Linked DNA regions of Homo sapiens. The protein of the gene in region 2 purifies or fractionates together with the protein of the main gene of each other region. This does not show direct contact. Each region holds a gene or a part of one and is shown on either strand. Other genes may lie near its edges.

The links. Proteins that work in one complex are often made in the same cells at the same time.
Region 1: the proteins of TYRO3 (region 2) and HSD17B12 purify together in Homo sapiens (affinity purification with mass spectrometry; one large-scale study listed by BioGRID and IntAct). This does not show direct contact.
Region 3: the proteins of TYRO3 (region 2) and NCAM1 purify together in Homo sapiens (affinity purification with mass spectrometry; one large-scale study listed by BioGRID and IntAct). This does not show direct contact.
Region 4: the proteins of TYRO3 (region 2) and PTDSS1 purify together in Homo sapiens (affinity purification with mass spectrometry; one large-scale study listed by BioGRID and IntAct). This does not show direct contact.

The regions. Positions count from the first base shown.
Region 1 is NC_000011.10:43,809,738-43,813,237, reverse strand, and holds part of HSD17B12 (very-long-chain 3-oxoacyl-CoA reductase), read right to left. Parts: intron 1-3,500. UniProt on the Homo sapiens protein: Catalyzes the second of the four reactions of the long-chain fatty acids elongation cycle. This endoplasmic reticulum-bound enzymatic process, allows the addition of two carbons to the chain of long- and very long-chain fatty acids/VLCFAs per cycle.
Region 2 is NC_000015.10:41,576,212-41,579,711, reverse strand, and holds part of TYRO3 (tyrosine-protein kinase receptor TYRO3 isoform 1 precursor), read right to left. Parts: exon of another isoform or gene 3,447-3,500; intron 1,827-3,446; coding exon 1,436-1,826; 3' UTR 1-1,435. UniProt on the Homo sapiens protein: Receptor tyrosine kinase that transduces signals from the extracellular matrix into the cytoplasm by binding to several ligands including TULP1 or GAS6. Regulates many physiological processes including cell survival, migration and differentiation.
Region 3 is NC_000011.10:113,205,920-113,209,419, reverse strand, and holds part of NCAM1 (neural cell adhesion molecule 1 isoform 2 precursor), read right to left. Parts: intron 3,378-3,500; coding exon 3,240-3,377; intron 2,160-3,239; coding exon 2,042-2,159; intron 1,588-2,041; coding exon 1,418-1,587; intron 1-1,417.
Region 4 is NC_000008.11:96,299,902-96,303,401, reverse strand, and holds part of PTDSS1 (phosphatidylserine synthase 1), read right to left. Parts: intron 1-3,500. UniProt on the Homo sapiens protein: Catalyzes a base-exchange reaction in which the polar head group of phosphatidylethanolamine (PE) or phosphatidylcholine (PC) is replaced by L-serine. Catalyzes mainly the conversion of phosphatidylcholine.

The DNA.
Region 1 (3,500 bases), on a different chromosome or scaffold from region 2:
TGTACTATAAGTACAAAGTTAAGCAAAGGAAGTCCCTGAATAACTAAGCAAGCAGAGAAGTGTTATTCTGGTTATGACTGTATTAACAATAGAGAGTTGCCAGGCGTGGTGGCTCACGCCTGTAATCCCAGCACTTTGGGAGACTGAGGCAGGCGGATCACGAGGTCAGGAGATCTAGATCATCCTGGCTAACACGGTGAAACCCCATCTCTACTAAAAATACAAAAAATTAGCCAGGCACGATGGCACGTGCCTGTAGTCCCAGCTACTCGGGAGGCTGAGGTAGGAGAATTGCTTGAACCCAGGAGGCGAAGGTTGCAGTGAGCCGAGATCACGCCACTGCACTCCAGCATGGGTGACAGAGGGAGACTCTGTCTCAAACAAAAACAAAAACAAACAATAGAGAGTCTTCAGCTGTGTCTCTGATAATTGAGCAAAGGAAAGCTATCAAAGCTATTTATTCACACAATGAAAATGTGAACATCTATTTAACATAGCTCTATAAGAAAACATATTCAACCAAAAAGCATCTGCACAGCAAAGGAAATAATCAACAGAGTGAAGAGACTACCTGTTGAATGGAAGAATATATTTGCAAACTATCCATCTGACAAGAGACTAATATCTAGAATATACAAAGAACTCAAACAACTGAATAGTTTAAAAAACAAGAAAACTTATTAAAAAGTGGGCTGAGGATATGGATAGATATTTCTCAAAAGAAGACATACAAATGGCCAGCAGATAAATGAAAAAATGCTCATCACCAATCATCACAGAAATCTGAATCAAAATGACAATGAGATATCATCTTACCCCAGTTAGAGTAGCTGTTATTAAAAAGCCAAAAAATAACAGATGCTGGCAAGGACGCAGAGAAAGCAGAATTCTTATCCACTGTTGGTGGGAATGTAAATTAGTATAGCCACTGTGGAAAACAGTATGGAGGTTTCTCAAAATATTAAAAATAGAACTATCACATGATCCAACAATCCCACTACTAGTATTTATCCAAAGGAAAATAAATCAGTATATCAAATAGATACCTGCACCCCCGTGTTTATTGCAGCATCATTCACAATAGCAAAGATAAGGAATTGACTTAAGTGTCCATCAACAAATAAATAGATAAAGAAAAATTTAGTATATATACACAATAAAATACTATTTGGCCATGAAAAGAATAAAATCCTGTAATTTATAGCAACATGGATGGAACTGGAGGTCACTGTGTTAAGTGAGATAAGCCAGGCACAGAAAGACAAATATTGCATGTTCTCATTCATATGTAGGAGCTAAAAAAGTTGGTCTCATGGAGGTAGAGAGTAGAATAATAGATACCAGAAGGTGGGGCAGGTGTGTGTGGGTGGGTGAGGGATGAAGAGAGGATGGTTAGTGGGTACATATAGTTAGATAGAAGGAATAAGTTCTAATGTTCAATAGCAGAGTAGGGTGACTATAGTTAACAACAATGTATTGTATATTTCAAAATGGCTAGAAGAGAGGTCTTTTAATGTTCCCAACACATAGAAATGATACTCAAAGTGACAGATACTTCAGCCACCCTGACATGATCATTACACATCCTATGCATGTAATAAAATATCACATGTATCCTATAAATATGTAGAAATATTATGTATCTGTTAAAAAAAAGAGAGAAAACCTGTTCAACACTGAGAACTTTAGTCCAAAAAAGTAAATAGTATCACGGAGAAGGGCTATGTTTTCATAAATAAAAGTACACACAATAAAACAATGTTAAAGCTGGAATAAGGCTGTTAAGAGCACTGAGTCCAATTTTATGAGGTGAAGTACACACCAAGGTCACAATGGCGATTTGTCCTATTCTAGGGATTAGGACTCCTACATTCCCTCCTGTACTATTAGTTCCACCTTTTGCTTGTGGAATGAATGATACCCATAATCTCCCCACCATAAGTAATCACTTCAGAATGCTCTTATTTAGGAGTATAGAGAAAAAACTGTTGCTCTCAAATAGTTATTTCCATAAAATGCAGAATAGTGCGAATCTTTTGGAAAAGCAAACCCACGGCAATTTTATTTTGAGACGTCAGGTGGCAGCAATAACCTAACAGCAGGCAGAAAGCTTTCAGGGAATTGCAAAAGGAAGAGAAAGAACAGGCTTTGAGTAGGAGTGAAGGATGGAAATACTCCCATTATAATATAATCTCATTAAGAATGGGTGCACGCAATGCCATCTTTACATATTACAGGATTCATTATAGGATTCGCCAAACCAAACAATGGCACATGTTGCTCCAACATTATTCAGATAGTTGAAGATCCCTTCTAAATGGTCGCATCTTAAATTAGCATTAAACATGTTTATTAGTGAGTTTTCTTGAATTCTTGAAGTGAGGCACTAGAGACAGATTTAAACATTTTTTTCAGTGAAAAACCTTTTTATTGTGTAACAACACATGATGTCTCTCAGGAAACAACAGATATCTATGTCATCATGGAATTCCCACCACCATCCCAGTCACTGTAGGGTGCTGGACAGTAACAAAATCTTTCCCATTGGTTTCTGACTAGAGGTCTAAGACTGGGAAGCGCTCAATAAAAGAGATGAGGCAGGCAGAGAACAGAGGTGAAAACAGACCAAGAATAATGCCAAAGGAAGTGGAAAGAAAAGGTGGTGGAGGGCAGAGGAGCCATCCTCTTAAGAGTTGATCCTTGCAGAGAAGAACTGACATAGGCCATGCTTAGCTACGCTCTCCTCGGCCCCCATCCAGAACCTCAGAAAACACTAATATCATTATGTGTTGCATTTTAAAGACACAGAAAATCCACGGAATAATTCTGAATTTTATATATATATATATATATATATATATATATATATAATTTCTAAATTATACTGCTTTAAAATCATTTCCAAATTTTATGCTCTTAAAAAAAGAATATTTACAAGATTTCTGTTTCTTCTAAGTTCGTTTGCTGCTGATCTCACTGAACTTAGAATCCTCTCTCAAAGCCAGCTGCTATAGAGATATAATGATGTCATCAGAAAATTAGATTTTTGGTATCTGGGTTAGGCGTGAGAGAGGAGCAAACAACAATAAATTACTAGAAATTAAAAATCCATTTGAACAAACAATTCTAACAGATACGGGTAACCCCCTACAGATCACCTTCAACCTGTTTCTTTTTCCAGATTAATCAGAGATATAGGAAATTAAGGTGGTTTAAAAATATGTTGCCTAATGGCCGGGCTTCCCGACATACATCAAATAATGCAAAGTAACCCCTCCTGTTTCCTTCTCATTGTATCAAAGGAGAAAAAGTTTATATTTCACTAACATTTGTGGTTATAAATGCTAATCCAGTTCCAGCACTTAGAGTTAATAAAAAGACATCTTATTTATTTATTTGCTTATTTATTTACTTATTTTGAGACAGAATTTCGCTCATGTTGCCCAGGCTGGAGTGCAATGGCTCGATCTCAGCTCACTGCAATCCGTCTCCTGGGTTCA
Region 2 (3,500 bases):
TCTATAAAAATCTTTCATCTTTGTGATCTCAAAAAAAGTAAACATTTAAGAGACAAAGCTGGGGCCAGGTGTGGTGGCTCAGGACTGTAATCCCAGCACTTTGGGAGGCCAAGGCAGGCAGATCACTTGAGGTCATGAGTTCAAGACCACCCTGGCCAACATGGCGAAACCACATCTCTACTAAAAATACAAAAATTACCTGGGCATGGTAGTGAGCCCCTGTAATCCCAGCTACTCTGGTGACTGAGGCACAAGAATCGCTTGAACCCAGGAGGCAGAGGTTGCAGTGAACCAAGATCACACCATGCACTCCAGCCTGGGCAACACAGTGAGACTGTCTCAAAAAAAAAGAAAAAAAAAAAGAGACAAAACCTTAGGTCTTTAGTCTTCAATTTTATTTCTATTTTAAACAGCAACTAACAGCTTGGAAATGTCCCTAACAGCTAGGACCCGCCCCATGCATTCCAGAGGCTCCCCCACCAAGGCTGGGGTCCAGGTTCCAGGAATTCCCCCTCATCAGGCCTGATTTCTCTCTGGAGACTTGGGACAGAAGAGGCTGTCCAGTTAGAGGGGAAGTTGGCACTAAAGGTCACCGTTTAGAAGGGTTGGGCTCAGACACAGCTGCCTTTGTTAGTCTTAGGATATTTTGAGATTTGGTAGCGTGCTCAGATTGTGGGTATGGAGAAGGGTTCCTGAACTCCTCTCCGGCCTCACTTGCTCCTGGGCAAGCCTCACAGCACCCCTTCCTCTTGCTGGCTCGGCACGCTGCCTTTGGAAGAGGGGCACCTGATAGGCTGGGTACTCCAGCATGCCTTTGTGTGACCCGGTCAGCTGCAGGGAAGCATGCTCCCCTCAACTTCTCCTGGCGTAGGCAGGGTGCGGAATCAGAAAGATGGTGAAGATTCAGACCTGAGATACCAACCCCTTACCAACCCTCACCTAAAAGGGAATATTACAAGGACATCTCTTTGTGACTTGGAGGGGCACACCTGGATATTTAAACCCCAAGTGTGGTAATAGCTGGGCCACCAGGCTGGAGGCAGCTCAATGCATGCACTTAAGCAGCAGGGGCAGCTCAGCAGGAGGGTAGGGCCCACAGAGCTGGACCTGCCCTCCCCACACTGCCATCCACACCCATGGTAACCATGGAAACATAACCACCCCACTCCTGCCAGCTGCCTGGGTTCAGACAACCAGGACTGGCCCACTTCCATCAAGCCAAGGCCTAAACTGATGCCAGGCTGGCCACAGAGTGGTTGCAGGAAGAACTGGGATTGGGTGATTTGGTCAGTCCGGGCTTCCCAGCACAGCTTGGGAGGACTACCACAGGAGCCTCCACACCTTGCTGTCTGGGCTGGGGTCAGACGGGGCTTAGTCAGCCAGCTCAGTGGCCACCAGAGCCGGCCAAATGGCCCCGATGCCCTCTGCCTGTGGGCTAACAGCTACTGTGTGGCAGTAGCCCTTGCTGCAGCAGCAAAAGCCTCTGTGTCTCATTGAGGGGACTCTCTGGCTGGTGCTCTGCCTGCCCTGGCTGCTCAGCCAGCCCTCCGGGGGTGAGTATGTACCGACAGTCACTGGGAGTGCCACCCACTGCCCCCATGCCACTGCCATCCCCAGCCCCACTGTAGGGCTGATCCCTGCCAGGTAGCTCCAGGCTGCCTCCCGCAGTGGGCTCCTCAGCTCTCTCGATGTTGATGTATAAGGGGTCCTGGCTGGCAGATAGCACAGACAGCTGGCCCAAGATGTTCTCCAGTTCCATTCGCAGACAAGTAAAGCTCGGGCGCTGCTTGGGGTCAGCACTCCAGCACTGGTACATGAGATCATACCTGGGGTGGAGAGAAGCGTGAGAAAAGGCAGGAGCCCTTCCCTCAAAAGCAGGGGCCCCTTCATCATATGGCACTAGGGTTTTAAAAAATTTTATTCCCTGGTGGGGCACAGCGGCTCGCATCTGTAATCTCAACACTTTGGGAGGCCGAAGGGGGGTATTATTTGAGCCCAGGAGTTCGAGACCAGCCTGGGCAATATGGCAAAACCCTGTCTCTATAATAATACAAAAATTAGCCAGGCTTGGTAGACACGCCTGTAGTCCCAGCTACTCGGAAGGCTGAGGTGGGATCACCTTGGGAGGCCAAGGCAGGCAGATCACCTGAGGTCAGGAGTTCGAGACCAGCCTGACCAACATGGAGAAACCCCATCTCTACTAAAAATACAAAAAAAAATTAGCCCAGCATGGTGGCACATTCCTGTAATCCCAGCTACTTGGGAGGCTGAGGCAGGAGAATCGCTTGAACCCAGGAGGTGGAGGTTGCGGTGAGCCGAGATTGCACAATTGAACTCCAGCCTGGGCAACAAGAGTGAAATTCCATCTCAAAATAAATAAACAAACAAATAAATTAATTAAATTAAATAAATAAAAAATATATTTGTAGAGACAGGGTCTTGCTATGTTGCTCAGGCTGGTCTCAAACTCCTGGCCTCTAGTGATCCTCCCACCACAGCTTCCTGAGTAGCTGGGATTACAGGCACATCCTAGCTTATTATTTCTCACAACAACCCTATGAAAGCAATGATCAAATAGAAATCATTTCCACATTTACAAATGTGGAAACATGCACAAAGAGGTTAAGAACCGTGACTAAAGTCACACACGTGGAAAGTGACAGAGCTGTGATTTGAAGCGAGGGGGTTGACTCCGAAGTCCCTCCTGTGCTGAGTGGGCAGTACCTACTCAGTAATTCCTCACCGTGCAGCCGGACACAGTGGTATGCACCTGTAGTCCCAGCTACTCAGGAGGCTGAGGCTAAAAGATCCTTTGACCCCAGGAGTTCGAGACTAGTCTGGACAACATAGCGAGACCATGTCTCTATTAAAAAAAAAAATTAATAAGCAAGGTATGGTGGTAAGTACCTGTAATCCCAGCTACTAGGGAGGCTGGGCAGAAGATCTCTTGAACCCAGGGGTTTGATGCTACAGTGAGCTGTGATTGCATTACTGCACTCCAGCCTGGCTGTCAGAGCGAGGCCCTTTCTCTTTTTTTTTTTTAAAAAAAAAAAAAAAAAAAAAAAAGGAAACCTACTGAATCAGGCCAGGTGCAGTAGCTCATGCCTGTAATCCCAGCACTTTGGGAGGCCGAAGCAGGTGGATCACTTGAGGTCAGGAGTTCGAGTCCAGCCTGGCCAACATGATGAAACCCCGTGTCTACTAAAAAATACAAAAATTGGTTGGGCAAGGTGGCACACACCTGTCATCCCAGCCCTTTGGGAGGCCAAGGTGGGCAGATCACCTGAGGTCGGGAGTTTGAGACCAGCCTGATCAACATGGAGAAACCCCGTCTCTACTAAAAATACAAAATTAGCTGGGCAGGGTGGTGCATGCCTGTAATCCCAGCTACTCAGGAGACTGAGGCACGAGAATCGCTTGAATCCAGGAGGTGGAAGTTGTGGTGAGCCAAGATTGTGCCATTGCACTCCAGCCTGGGCGACAAGAGCAAAACTCCATTT
Region 3 (3,500 bases), on a different chromosome or scaffold from region 2:
AGACTTTCAAGAATATTTTTCATGAAGTTTAGCTTTCTCTCTCAAATACGTACGGTTAACTTGAACCTAACTGATAGCCTGTTTCTAAACCCAGCTGTTTACTACTGAATAACTAGCAGGACATTTGCATATAAAGTCTTGATTTTCAAAGGTCTGTGTTTATGAACAGTTCTCCTTATCAGGCTGGATAAGCAGGTCCCAACCCTGATTCCCAGGTGCACATTTTAATGACCTGGGGGCTCCATGCACCAGAGCTGCGCCTCAGACTGGCACTTCCCCAGTGCTGTCTACAGTAGACCAGTTTATCTGTGTTTTCTAAACAGACACGCGGAGAGACTTGAGGGCCATTAGGTTAAACGTTTCTCTGCAACCAATTCTTTTTTCAAGATCAGGTCAAAATGCTTTTCAGTTCTGAAATGAATGGAAGTTTCCTGAGTTTATGAAGATGAAGTGAGCAGGGATGTGGGGGCTCTTCCATGACACTGTTTTGCACAGGTCAGGGAAGGAGGCAAACAAGGCAAAGCAGCCAGCCCATCGACCACTAAAGTTACCAAGGGCCTATGCCAAGTCTGGCACTGTTTGGAGTCACAGGGATAACGCCGTGTATGACAGCCAGGGTTATGCTATCTTGAAGTTTACACACTAGTAGAGGTAGGAGACAGACAATCCCCAAAACAAATATGCAAATGACATCTGTTCAGGTACTGTTAAGTACAGCAAAGAAGATACAGTAAGAGTCACGAGAGAGAGATGAGTGGAGGTGGGTGGGGGTGGTCGCAGTGCAGAGGGAGTTGAATTAGCCAGGGCAGTGAAGGAAGGCGCCGCTGAGAAGGTGAGTTTGAGTTAAGATCTGAATGGTGGATCAGAAGAAGGCAGCTCAGAGTGGATCAGAGGGAAAGATATTCCAAGCAGAAGAGAAACCTAGGGCAGTGATCCTGAGATGAAGAACAAGCTTGGTATGTCTGAGGGACATGAAGAAGGCCTGTGTGGTTGGAGAACTTTGCATGTGCAGCAAAGCGAAAGAAAGATGAGGCTGGAGAAGAAGGCAGGAGCTAGTTCATCTCTGGTCTTGTAGGCCATTGCAGGGAGTCTGAATTTTATTCTGGTTGCCATAGGGAGCCACTGGAGGCTTTCAAACAGATGAGTGGTACTTAGGTCATTCTGACTACTGTGAGCAGAAGTGAATGAAGTGGACCAATAGGGAGAGTCGGGGAGGCCAGCTATGAGACCGTCCCACTGCTCAGGTGAGGATGATGGTGGCTTGGACTAGGGCTTGGACTAGGTGGTGGAACTGGCAAGAAATGGTTGCATTGGGTTATGTTCTGAGGGACAGTGGCCAGGGTCTTACTGATGGACTGAATGTGCAGAGGAAGGGGAATTGTGGCAGAGCAGTGACCTGGGCCCCCACTGCCCCTACCAAAGACTTTGAGGTGGATGGTCGCATCCTGCTCGCCAGCCTTGTTCTCAGCAATGCAGATGTACTCAGCCTCGTCGTTCTTATCCACCTTTTTGATGGTCAGCTGGGAACTATCGTCGCTGAAGATGTACTTCTCATCGTCTTCCTCTTGCTCTATCTGTTCCCCATCCCTAGAGCATGTAGAAATGCAAAGTAGCATGATTTCGACCACAGAAATAAGACGTTTATTTTTAATTAGGTTCCATAGAATGCAGACTGAGTCAATGGGAAAGACTCCTCAGTCTTCACAAAAAGTTAAGGCACCAAGTTGAACGTCCACATACACCTCTTATTCCTCTATTCCATCCTCTGACTATCCAAGGGCTGCAACTGTACCCACAAATGTTTCAAAGTGGGCTCCCAAGACCACACCCTCTGGCTCTGACTCTGCCCCCACAAGGCTGAAATTGAAGGAATAATCAATGCACAAGCAAGAGAATCTTATAGAAAAGAGTCCATTCTTCTCCTGGGGTTAATATTCCTAAGAAGCCCACATCCATTCCACGCAGACACTAACATGGAGCAGACTTTGTGATGCCCCATTCTCCTCTAGTCCATGATAAAAGGTATGAGCCAGTTTCTTACTTTGTCCAGCTCATGGTGGGCTCTGGGAAGCCTTCGGCATCGCACACCAGGGTGACGGACTGGCCGAGGTTGGCGGTGGCATTCACAATATTCTGCCTGGCCTGGATGGTAGGTGGCACTGAAGGAAAAAAGGGTGTCATGGGGTGGTTGTGAAAATTTGGAAGAACCCAATGGCCTGGAGAAGAGACACCACTCCAGGTCAGGAGTTCTCAGCCTGTGGGACAAACGTCGTGTGCAGCTACAGAGTTAGTGTCAGGAATTGAAATTCATGTATGTACTAAATAACTTCTGCAAACTGAATAGACAGTTCTACAAACATGCATTTTTGTTTTTCATTAATTGAGAAGCTATAGTAATACATTTTATGCATGTTAAGATGGTATTCAATTTATAGTCACTATTCTTCATTATGTATTTTCTCAGTCAATGCATACTAAACTTAATAACTACCAGGTTCAGTGAAACTTGATGTTAAAAAGGAGCTCTTTGTACTGGAAAAAGTTGGACATTACTGCTCCCAGTGGTTAAATGGTTAACACCAATTCGAATGCATCAGCTATAACAAAGAGTGCCATTTCTCTGGGACTGTGATAAACAACCTTGTACAAAACTGTTTTTTACCAAAGGAATGAGATGGGGAGAGTTTGGCAAAAAAAATATGTGTCAATAGTCAAAACAATTCAACCCTGATTTACTTATTTTCTTAGTACTGACATTATAATTTCCTGTAAACATCTTGTAAATGTCAGATCAATTCCATGGGTGTGTTTATTTGACACTGCAAGTTAAGATTAACAAGCCTATGGACCATGATTCTGACTATTCTGAGGCCTGAGTTGACTTAATACTTTCTTTGAACATTTAAGCAGCGGAATAACTTCACAATTATGGTAACATCAAGGACAATGAGGATTAATAGGTAAGCAGGGGGAAAGTTTTTAGTGCTGCAGAACGGTGAAGGACATTCAGTTGCTGCACTAAAATCCCTCGTAGTTGAAGGAAGATCCAACAGGCAAGTATATTAAAAAAAAAAAAAAAAAGAAATCTAGATGTTACGGTGGGGAGGGGATTTAGCTCAGACGGATGATTGAGTCAGGACAGGATTTAATTTACAGACCCAAGAGGAAGTTAAAGAGAATGATTTTGGAGAACCAAGGTTGTAGCAATGCAGAGATCAGGAAGAACGGACTCTCCTCACCATTCACAATGACCTGAATGTCCTTGAAGTTGATCTCCCCCCGTGCCAGGATTCTGCCCTCACAGCGATAAGTGCCCTCATCTGTTTTCTTGATGCCCCGGATCTGCAGGTAGTTGTTGGACAGGACTATGAATCGGACTAGAAGAGATAAGAGGCAGGTTCATCCAAGAATCAGTCAGAGAGCATCTGCAGGCAGGTGGCTGAGTCTCTTTCCTTTTTCCTAACTTCAGTATCATAGGGTGGGGTTTTAAGCCCAAATAA
Region 4 (3,500 bases), on a different chromosome or scaffold from region 2:
TGCTAAGTGGTTGGAGGCACAAGCACCAACCAGTCAGGCCTTCCGTTCTAGTGGGTGGGAGCAGGGAGAGTGATAGGAAACCAGGGCTGTTCCTTCATCCACCCACCTATCCACCAACAAACTCGTATTGAGAAAACATCACAGCAAGAAGATCTGCGGCACACTGGCAGCAAAAAATAGAGACTATCCAAAAATAAACAAGAACTACAAAAGACTTGTACTGTAAAAATAGCAAAGTGCATAGAAAGACTGAGAAGAAAATGGGAATAAAGAGAGATGCAGCGTGATCAAGAATCAGAATATTTAATACAGCAAAGAGGTTAATTCAACTTAATCTGTATTCATTTATACATTTAATATTACTTTAAAAAAACCACCAATAGGATTTTTTGTTGTTGTTTATTAGTTGGGTTTATGTCGTGGGAACTTGACAAAATGATTCTGAAGTCAAATTTCAAGAATAAACATAAGAAAACAAGGAAGTATACTGTAGCAGTGTTCAAGAAAGCAGACATCCTGAGGCCAGGCATGGTGGCTCATGCCTCTAATCCCAGCACTTTGGGAGGCTGAGGCCGGCAGATCACTTGAGGTCAGGAGTTTGAGATCAGCCTGGCCAACATGGTGAAACCCTGTCTCTACTAAAAATACAAAAATTAGCCAGGTGTGGTGGCGGGTGCCTGCAGTCCCAGCTATTTGGGAGGCTGAGGCAGGAGAATCACTTGAACCTGGGAGACAGAGGTTGCAGTGAGCCAAGATTGTGCCACTGCACTCCAGCCTAGGCGACAGAGTGAGACTATGCCTCAAAAACAACAACAACAACAACAAGGAAAGCAGACATCCTGGTGCAAATTCAGACTCAGCTGCTTGCTAGCTGTGTGTCCTTAGGCAAATTACTAAACCTAAGCCTCAGTATCACATCATTCCTAAACTGAAGAGAATAACAGTGTCTACCCTCAGGACTGATTCAAGGCTCAAATGAGATATTGCTTGTGAAGCTTGCTTGGAGCAATACTTGAAGCATGGCTACTATTTTTATTAGGTTAAATGCTGCCTTAAATATATTAAAAAGTGGCTGGGCATGGTGGCTCATACCTGTAATCCCAGCACTTTGGGAGGCCGAGTAAGGCAGATCACCTGAGGTTGGGAGTTCGAGACTAGCCTGGCCAACATGGAGAAACCCTGTCTCTACTAACAATACAAAAATTAGCTGGGTGTGGTGGTGCATGCCTGTAATCCCACCTGGGGATTACAGGCACTGGGGAGGCTGATGCAGGAGAACTGCTTAAACCCGGGAAGTGGAGACTGCAGTGAGTTGAGATTGCACCACTGCACTCCAGCCTGGGTGACAGAGCAAGACTCTGTCTCAAAAAAACAAATACATAAAAATTAGAATTAAAATTAAATATATTAAAAAGTGTCCTTGCAAGTCAGTGACCAAAGAAAGGTTTAGTAATAAAAGGGATGGGGAAAACTGGTTAACCAATGGCAAAAACATTGTGAAATCTCCTCCTCACATCATATACCAAAATAAATTTGAGACAGATTAAATACTTAAAACAAGTAAAACCACTAAAGAACTAGAAGAAAGGCTGGGCACGGTGCTCACGCCTGTAATCCCAGAACTTTGGGAGGCTGAGGCGGGCGGATCACCTGAGGTCAGAAGTTCGAGACCAGCCTGACCAACACAGAGAAACCCCGTTTCTCCTAAAATACAAAAAAAAAAGTTAGCCGGGCGTGGTGGCTAATCCCAGCTACTCGGGAGGCTGAGGCAGGAAAATCGCTTGAACCTGGGAGGCGGAGGTTGCAGTGAGCCGAGATTGTGCCATTGCATTCCAGCCTGGGCAACAAGAGTGAAACTCCATCTCAAAAAAAACAAAAACAAACAAACAAAAAAACAAAAGAACTAGAAGAAAATACTGGTTAATATTTACCTAAACAAAAAGATTAACAGTATTTTTGATGTTTAAATAAAAAATCCACCACAAACTAGTTTAAAAGGGGATGACAGGCTGGGCACAGTGGCTCACGCCTGTAATCCCAACACTTTGAGATGCTGAGGCGGGTGATCACCTGAGGTCAGGAGTTCGAGACCAGCCTGGCCAACATGGTGAAACCCCATCTCTACTAAAAACAAAAACTAGCCAGGCGTGGTGGCACGCGCCTGAAGTCCCAGCTACTTGAGAGGCGGAGGCTGCAGCGAGCCGAGATTGTACCACTGCACTGCAGCCTGGGTGACAGAGCAAGACTCCATCTCAATAAAACAAACAAAAAAAAAGGGGGTGACAAAATGGAAAATAAAGTCACATTTATGGCAAAGTGTTAATTAGCTTAATCTGTAGAAAGCACAAATAAAAGAGGGTAAATCCAATAGAAATTGATAGAAATCCAGTATCACACAATTTTATGTGTGATAAATTTGACAAAGGTTTAAAAATGAAGTTCAAGGAAATAGTGAAATGGATATACATATATATTATAGGTGAGATTACAAATTGGTACACTCTATTTCTAAGAATTTATTTACCAAAAAAAAGGCGATGCACACTAAGATATATGTCCAAGAATGATCACTCCAGTCTTCTTTATGAAAGCAAAAACTTTGAAACAACTAAAGGACCATAAAATGGAACTGGTTAAATACTACATGGTTTATCCATATGTTGAAGTACAAAGAAGCCCTTTAAAATCATGTTTTAGAAGAATATTTAATGATGTGGGAAAATGCTATTTTGTTATATAGAGTAAACAAAGTTTTAAACACAATTGAAGCAACCACAACTTTCATTATCAGTACCATTATTCTTCCTTATCAATGGCATGATTCGTGCTGCAAAATGAGAAGCAAGTTTAACAAAGCAGGATAAAGCAATGCCGGCGGTATGACTGTCCTCTACTGGAAGCATAGTGGGGTATGCAACTTAAAACTATTCAGAGAACTTCCTGGGTGGCAAGTGAGCTAAGTCAGCAAAGAAAAGGATGATCAGGCTGGCCTATGGGTACACAGGCCAAATCTCAGGTGAAGAGAGGGGAGCGTGTGCACAAACAGACTCTCGGTTGCCTGGGAGGGTGTAGAGAAAGGATCTCCCTACTGGGGTAATGGATGTATTGACCATGACCAAAGACCATGAGAAGCCATCACAGGGCAATGACATGATGAATCTGATGTTCTTAAAAAGATCACTCAAGCAATGGTGTGGGAAGGACTGGAGGACTTAACCTGGAAACAGAGATGAATTGATCCAGGGATGGGAGTCTGAATGAAGGCTGAGGCAGTCGGGATAAAAAAGAGTGGGGGTGGATTTCAGAAATCTTTTGAATTAGGAGGATGGTGTTAGGACCCCCTGAATACATAGGGTGAGAGAGAGAAAATCATAAATGATTGAGCATTTTCTGGACAAATGCTTGAAATCAGGTTTATAATCATTTATGAGTTTCAGTTATTAACATGGAATTTATTCCTTATCATCAAAGATCATACTAAAATGGATTCCTACCAAAAC